2 linked regions of the Homo sapiens genome follow. The protein of the gene in region 2 purifies or fractionates together with the protein of the main gene of each other region. This does not show direct contact. Each region holds a gene or a part of one and is shown on either strand. Other genes may lie near its edges.

Evidence for each region. The genes of interacting proteins can lie anywhere in the genome.
Region 1: the proteins of FLT4 (region 2) and HNRNPCL2 purify together in Homo sapiens (affinity purification with mass spectrometry; one large-scale study listed by BioGRID and IntAct). This does not show direct contact.

Annotation. Positions count from the first base shown.
Region 1 is NC_000001.11:13,114,860-13,118,375, forward strand, and holds HNRNPCL2 (heterogeneous nuclear ribonucleoprotein C-like 2), read right to left. Parts: upstream 1,996-3,516; 5' UTR 1,934-1,995; intron 1,723-1,933; 5' UTR 1,542-1,722; coding exon 660-1,541; 3' UTR 629-659; downstream 1-628.
Region 2 is NC_000005.10:180,628,979-180,632,627, forward strand, and holds part of FLT4 (vascular endothelial growth factor receptor 3 isoform 1 precursor), read right to left. Parts: intron 2,897-3,649; coding exon of another isoform or gene 2,801-2,896; coding exon 2,704-2,800; intron 1,822-2,703; coding exon 1,577-1,821; intron 1,360-1,576; coding exon 1,247-1,359; intron 1,128-1,246; coding exon 965-1,127; intron 858-964; coding exon 718-857; intron 450-717; coding exon 281-449; intron 22-280; coding exon 1-21. UniProt on the Homo sapiens protein: Tyrosine-protein kinase that acts as a cell-surface receptor for VEGFC and VEGFD, and plays an essential role in adult lymphangiogenesis and in the development of the vascular network and the cardiovascular system during embryonic development.

The DNA.
Region 1 (3,516 bases), on a different chromosome or scaffold from region 2:
AATTGCTGGTTTAATAAAGAGTTGTTTATTTTCAGGGAAAAGGTCCCAAACATCAAGCTGTTCACAAAAATAACCCACGGTATCAACTTTAGAAAACACATTTGAAGACTATAACACCAATTATGTTTCTGAGGATGCATTTGACATGCCAACTCTCATTCACAAAAATACATTGTTAGATTTTTGTTGAACTGCCCCACACAGCACACTAATATGGGGTGTAACACACATACTTGTAACTCCAAGCTGCTTTCAGGAGCTACTCAACTCAATGAGATTGCCTTTGCAGTTAGGGAAGCAACTACTGAACTTATGTATGAAAGAAAAGAACTGTATTCCCTGCATAACAAGAGATTATTTTGGAGACAGTTGATAAAAACCATACATCCTTTTTACTGTTAAGTCATAAAGAGGTGTCAAAATTAAAAGCAAAAATTACAGGGTAAGACTTAGGAAAACTACTAGGGGTGTCATGGGAAGTGAAAATGGGACTAGGCGCAGGGCAATATGAATTAATGAATGTGGGAAGGACAAGGATGGGGAGAACAGTAAGCATGTGCTGAAGATACTAAGGGAGAGGATCTGGTGAAAAATTTGTTGTTAGACAAGCTCCTAGGTAAAGAAACAATGGGATAAGATTTCTCAACCCCACTATGTGCTTAAGAGTCATCCTGGCCATTGGTGCTGTCTCTGTTATCCTCTCCTTCCTCAGCATCTTTTTCATTATTCTTGATCAAATGAAGCTGGTTGTCCCCCTGATCTTCATTATCATCATCATCCAGTGGGTCCCCCTCCTCAGCAGAGTCTTCTGCACCCCCCTCAGACTCCATCTTTACATGAGTCTCATCTTTCTTCATGGAGCTACTGCTCTGCTCCTCTTCTGACTTAGCATTTTTCACCTCTACCTCTTGTTTGCTCTGTTCCTTTTCAATTTTTTCCAGGTTTTCCAGGAGAGAATCCACTTTCTGTTTTATCTGGGTCAACTCCTGCTTAATGGCCTGAAGGTCATCTCCTTTCAGCTTTCCAGACTTGGAAGATCCCCGCTTTCCACTCTTAGAATTGAAGCCACTTTTGCCCCTTCGTGAGGTGTTTCCTGATATGCGCTGGCGTTTCGAGGGCACTACAGCCAGAGCAATGGGAGGAGGAGGAGGTACACGTGCTGGGAAACTGTACATCCCATCATAATAATCCCGTTGAAAGCCATAGTCCAAGTCAAAAGAGGAGCCGTACATCTCCGCTGCGGATCGTTTCACACCTGCGTTTCCTCGGTTCACTTTTGGCTCTGCAGCCAGGTTAATAACTGCAACCTGGCTAGCAATCATTCTGCCATCCTCTCCTGCTACAGCAGCCCGGGCATTTTTCTCCTTATCATATTGAACGAAGGCAAAGCCCTTATGAACAGAGCAGCCCGCAATTTTGCCATACTTGGAAAAGATCGCCTCCACATCAGATTTCTTGACAACAAGAGTGTTGAGATTCCCAATGAACACACGGGAGTTCACGGAGTGAGGATCCATCTTGTTGGTAACGTTGCTGGCCATTGTGTTGGATGATAAGGTTTCTCAAAAAGCCAAAAACAGGAGGCGGGAGGGAGAAGAGATTCGATTCTAAGTCTCCTACTGCCGGGTTCTACGGGGAGAAACTGACTGCGGCTCGAGGCCAGAAATGCAGCCAAAACAGCTCAGTCTTCGTCTCTTCACAAAATGGCTGCCAACAAGAATTCTGAAATGATGTAAAGAAAAGCACAACAACATTTTTGAAATCACGACAAAATTGCATTTAGAAAAAAAAATCAAAGCTTCAAAGTGTTCATATGAAAAAAAGAAAAAAAGACATGATATAGTTCTATGCCATCGTAGGCTGCACTGTCACCGTTCTAGACCGGCTGACTGTAGGTCACATGGGAGTGTCCTTACAGAAATTAGTGACTTACCAGATCTGGTTGTAGTTTAGAAGGTGCTCAGACCTCAGGAAGAGCCAAGCAGGAACTCCAGGCTTGAAGACTTTGAGTTTGTCCTGTGGGTCTTTAGAAGCTTTTATTGACCTTTCTAATCACAACTCCCACCCACGCCCCTCCACGTATCCGCTGCTAGCTTCCAATCAAAAAGCGATATCTGATTGCATTTCTGAAGCTCCACTCAGTTAATCCTGATTGGGTTTTTGACTGTCCGAAGACTAATGGATTGAACGAGATATCCATTCATATCACATATGCATAATCATTTTATGAATTAAGAAATTGACAGAGTTAGGGATAGAGTGGAAATCAAGAATTCATTCACTCAAGGCCAGGTGAGGTGGCTCACACTTGTAATCCCAGCACTTTGGGAGGCCAAGGTAGGTGGATCACCTGAGGTCAGGAGTTCAAGACCAGCCTGGCCCACATGGTGAAACCCTGTCTCTACAAAAATAGAAAAGTTAGCCAGGCACGATGGTGGCTGCCTGTAGTCCAGTTACTCATGCGGCTGAGGTGGGAGAATCCCTTGAACCCTGGAGGCTGAGTTTGCAGTGAGCCAAGATTACACCATTGCCCTCCTGACTGGGCGACAGAGGGAGATTTTGTCAAAAAAAATGCATTCATTCATGAAATCCACAAACACTGATGGAATTTTACTGCTATTTCGCCTTCAAGTCCTGATGTGAGGCAGGGAAGGGGTTGATCTGTTCCAGACATTAGACAGAAAAATAAAACCTGAAAGTAGTGTTGTGGGGAGATCTTTGGCCACATCAAAATTATAAAATTTATAAAAATATTTCTAGTTAAAATAGCTGTATAAACACAGAGGAGTCGTCCCTACAAAATAAGAATAAAGATCTCCATGTATGGAATGGTCTTGTGGGTTTTATATCACCTAAGGTAGCAGTTTCTTCACTCGTGCTGGTGGAAGAGAGGTGCCACTGAGGGCTTGAGTGGTCTCAGGGCTTAGGTTAAGTCTTCTCTGGAAGAAATTGAAATGATACCTGTAAACTTTATAAGTTTAATCAGTGAAGAAGGGAGGGGGAGAAACAAAAATAAACCAAGCTTGCAGCGCATTCAGCATTCACCATGAGGTCAGCTTGCTCTCTGACCTTCTTCCTCATGGTTGCTGGCAGCTTACTGTCCCCAAATCAAGTAGACCTTAGCTTACAGTTCCCCTTAACTACCCTGCAGACAACAATTTAAGCCTTGTAAAACATTAACTTTCTCATTTGAGATATTCTTTCAGGTTCTGCATGTCAGTGAAACTACTGATGCCAGCTGATCTGAAGGGCTCTGCAAGGCACCAACTCACCAAAGAATGCAGTTTTGACATCCTGATGACTTCATCCCTCTTACCTCTACACCAACTTTCCAGCCCCTTGCTATCCAGGATCCACTGGAAACCCTCAGTACTACTTGGGGAGATGAATTTGAGGATATCCTCCTAGCTTCTCATTTAGCCACCCTGTGATCATTAAACTGTCTGCTGCAAACACTGCTGTCTCAGAATATTGGTCAGCTACTGTGCAGCAGGCATAGGAACCTGATGGTCCTGT
Region 2 (3,649 bases):
CGACGCTGATGAAGGGATTTTCTGCCGGACAGGAGAAGTCACTGTAAATCCAGGACTGACCCGTCGTGGACTGACCAGGGACTCCCCCCACGGCCCCTGCAGCCCCGGCAGCCGGACATCCGCAGACTGGGGCTGGCCATGCCGCCCGGTGCAGGAGCTGGGCAGCTCCTCTGCTCGTGGCCCTCCCTTCCCTCTGGCTGGACTCCTGAGTGCTCAAGGGCACCGTGAGCTCTGGGCCCAGGCCCACAGGGCACAAGGACCCTGGTTTCCCAGGCCATACCATGCACAATGACCTCGGTGCTCTCCCGAAATCGCTGGATGCCGTTGTTGGCCTTGCACACATACGAGCCCAGGTCGTGCTGGCTGACGTTGTGGATGGTCAGGATGCTGGAGAGTTCTGTGTGGGTCTGCTGGGAGCGTCGCTCGGGCACCCACTTACCCCGCTCTGCCTGCCCGCACCCAGGGAAGCCCCGCGTCAGCAGGCGGGCTCCTGCACAGCTACCCCACCGAAGGCACACCTCCCAGCCCAGCCAGCGGTGGCTCCGGAAGCCCTGGACCCAGGCCCTGAGTTTTCTTTGGGTGGAACACTTGCCACTCAGACCGGGGCCCCTGGGGCAGGCCTGGGCCCACACATCCTCCACGCGGAGGCCCAGTGTGTGCTGTACAGTCACAGGGACTCCTGGGGACAGGACAGCCTGGCAGCGCTGCTGACCTCACCTGCTTCCCTGGGTAGTCCCAGTCAAAGGTGACACCTGAGTTAAACTCAGCCCACACGGTGCAGTTCAGGACCAGCTTCTCCCCTACCAGCAGCTCCAGCGACTTCCTGGGCAACAGCTGGATGTCATAGAGCTCGTTGCCTGTTGACACGCACACAGTGACTCCCACGCCCTCACAGGACGACACCCACTGAGGCCAGTGAGGCAGTGACAGCCCCGTTACTGGGAACGGGGCACAGCCCTGTTACCTGTGATGTGCACCAGGAAGGGGTTGGAAAGGAAGTCCTGGTCTCCCCAGGTGGTCTCGCACTGCAGGTACAGGGCATCGTGCAGCAGTGGCGTGGACACGAGCATGCCCCGCCGGTCATCCCACACCACCTCCTGCCCGTCTGGCCACAGCACCGAGCTTTGCTGGAGGGACAAGGCCACCATCATTGCCCAGCTGCCCCTTGCTCCTGGCCAGACAGGCGGCCGCCTTTCCCAGGGGTGGGATGGGAGGGTCGGATGCTGGGGTTGGGGTGGGGCCGTACCGAGCGCAGCGTGACATTGAGGCCGGGGATGGACACCAGACAGGGCACCCACATGGCGTCCTTCCTGTTGACCAAGAGCGTGTCAGGCTTGTTGATGAATGGCTGCTCAAAGTCTATGGAGAGGGAGCAAGCTGTTGGGGAAGGGACGTGGCGGCCAGGCTGGGGGAGGGCTCCACGGGGCTGGGTGGTGCTGGTCCTGAACCAGCCACCCGCTGGAGCAGGTAGGGCCCCGTTCTCTCCTCCTGCCAGCCCAGGGTCCACAGGCTGGGGGCGGTGTGGGCCCCAGCTGCCCGGGACCCTGCTCCAGCCTGGCCCGCCTCCAAGTCTCACCTCTCACGAACACGTAGGAGCTGGCGGCCGTGGTGCCCTCGATGCGTGCCTTGATGTACTTGTAGTAGCAGACGTAGCTGCCTGTGTCGTTGGCATGTACCTCGTGCAGCAGCAACACCTTGCAGTAGGGCCTGGCGTCTGTGCCCTCGCAGTCTCGCACCACCCCCGTGTCCTCGCTGTCCTTGTCTCCGGTGGCTGGCGCCTCCTGAGCTCCTGGCCAAGCCCACTCGAGGGGGTGCTGTCCCCTGGCAGAGGACAGGAGTGGTCAGGTGGGCCCCAGGGCAGCCCATGGGGACTGTCCCTGAGAAGCCTCCCTCAGGCCGAGCCTCACCAGGTTTGTCTTACCCAGAGCATGGAACTGCCCAGGGTTTGGGCGCACACTACAGACCGTGCCCAGGGCAGGGCACTCCCCGACCCCCGGGCCTCTACCAGGCTCCCGGGGCTGGCCTGTGGCCAAGCACAGGCCTTGGATCACAGCTGGGAAGGTGGGGAGGTACCCATCTCTGGGGCCCCAGTGGGTGCTCCCAGGGTGGCTGGGAGTGGATGCAGATGACCTGGGAGGTGGCCTGGGGTCAGTGTGAGGTGTCAGGAGTGGGGTGCAGGGTGATGAGGCCCCATATGAAATGCTGATGGGGTGGGCTGGGCACAGTGGCTCACGCCTGTAATCCCAGCACTTTGGGAGGCTGAGGTGGGTGGGTTACGAGGTCAGGAGATCAAGACCATCCTGCTTAACACGGTGAAACCCCGTCTCTACTACAAATACAAAAAATTAGCCGGGCGTGGTGGCGGGCACCTGTAGTCCCAGCTACTTGGGAGGCTGAGGCAGGAGAATGGCGTGAACCCGGGAGGCAGAGCTTGCAGTGAGCCGAGATCGCACCACTGCACTCCAGCCTGGGTGACAGAGTGAGACTCCATCTCAGAAAAAAAAAAAGAAATGCTGATGGGGGTGTGTGGTTGAGGCTGGGGAGGACCGAAGTCACCCACAGCCTGGGAGACCACACGGCCCCGAGGCCACTCTGCCCTGACTCTGCCCTGGGAGGGGGCTGCCATCTGGGCCCACAGCCACCACCTCCTGCCTTGGGCTTGTGCAGCCTCTCTGGCCTGCCAGTGGGAGAGGGACCCAGTACCTGCAGGAGATGGACAGGCTGTCACCGGTGTCGATGACGTGTGACTCCTCCGTGATGTTCAAGGTCGGGGGGGTCATGGAGTAGCCACTCACCAGGCCTGGGGTGGGAGACAGGGTCAGCGTGGTGCTGGGCTGTGACTTGGCACGACGTTGATGGGGCATGGCTGGGCATTCTGCATCGCAAGCGCAGACCCCTGCAGGGCCGGAGCAGCTCAGGTTCTCAGCCAGCACCGCGTGGCCTGGCCTCACCATGTGCGCCGTGAGCAGCACCAGCTCCCAGGCGCCAAGACAGCCACGAACCTCTCCCACAGGCGCACCCTGCCTTGCCCCACAGCCCCCATCCTCAGCTACACACCGGCCCTGGACCTAACCCCAACCTCTGACCCCGGTGAGCTGAGCGGCTGGCATGAAGGAGCGGGGGAGGGGCGCTGGAGTGTGTCACCTCCACATCACGGCCCCTGCAGTGCTGCTGCCTGAGGCCCTCCCTCCTGAACTGCAGCCCTACACCCGCTGCTTCCCAGAGGGTCCGCACATCCCAGGTCCTCCCCGAACCACGCAGGCCTCGCCCCCTCCTGCCTGCTCTCTGCCAGGGGCCTCGCCCCCTCCTGCCTGCTCTCTGCCAGGGGCCTCGCCCCTTCCCAGGCCACGTGGTGTCACCTCACAGGTGTCCTTTCGCTCCTCAGCTTCTCGCACCCTCACAGACCCTGCTGGCTGCCCCAGCCTCCTCCGGGCTCTCCCTGCCCAGGCCTCCCTAGACACCCCCAGGTCTTCTCACAGGGCTCTTCCTCAGACATACAAATAAACCCGCCTCATCTGGCTGAAACCCACCATCAGCCAGAGACTGTAGGCTGGCCGGGCTGGGCCTTCTGTCCTGCAGGACTCAGCCCTGCTGCCCCCACACCCTCCTCCCCGTGAGGTGGTGTGTGTGTGTGTGTGTGTGTGTGTGT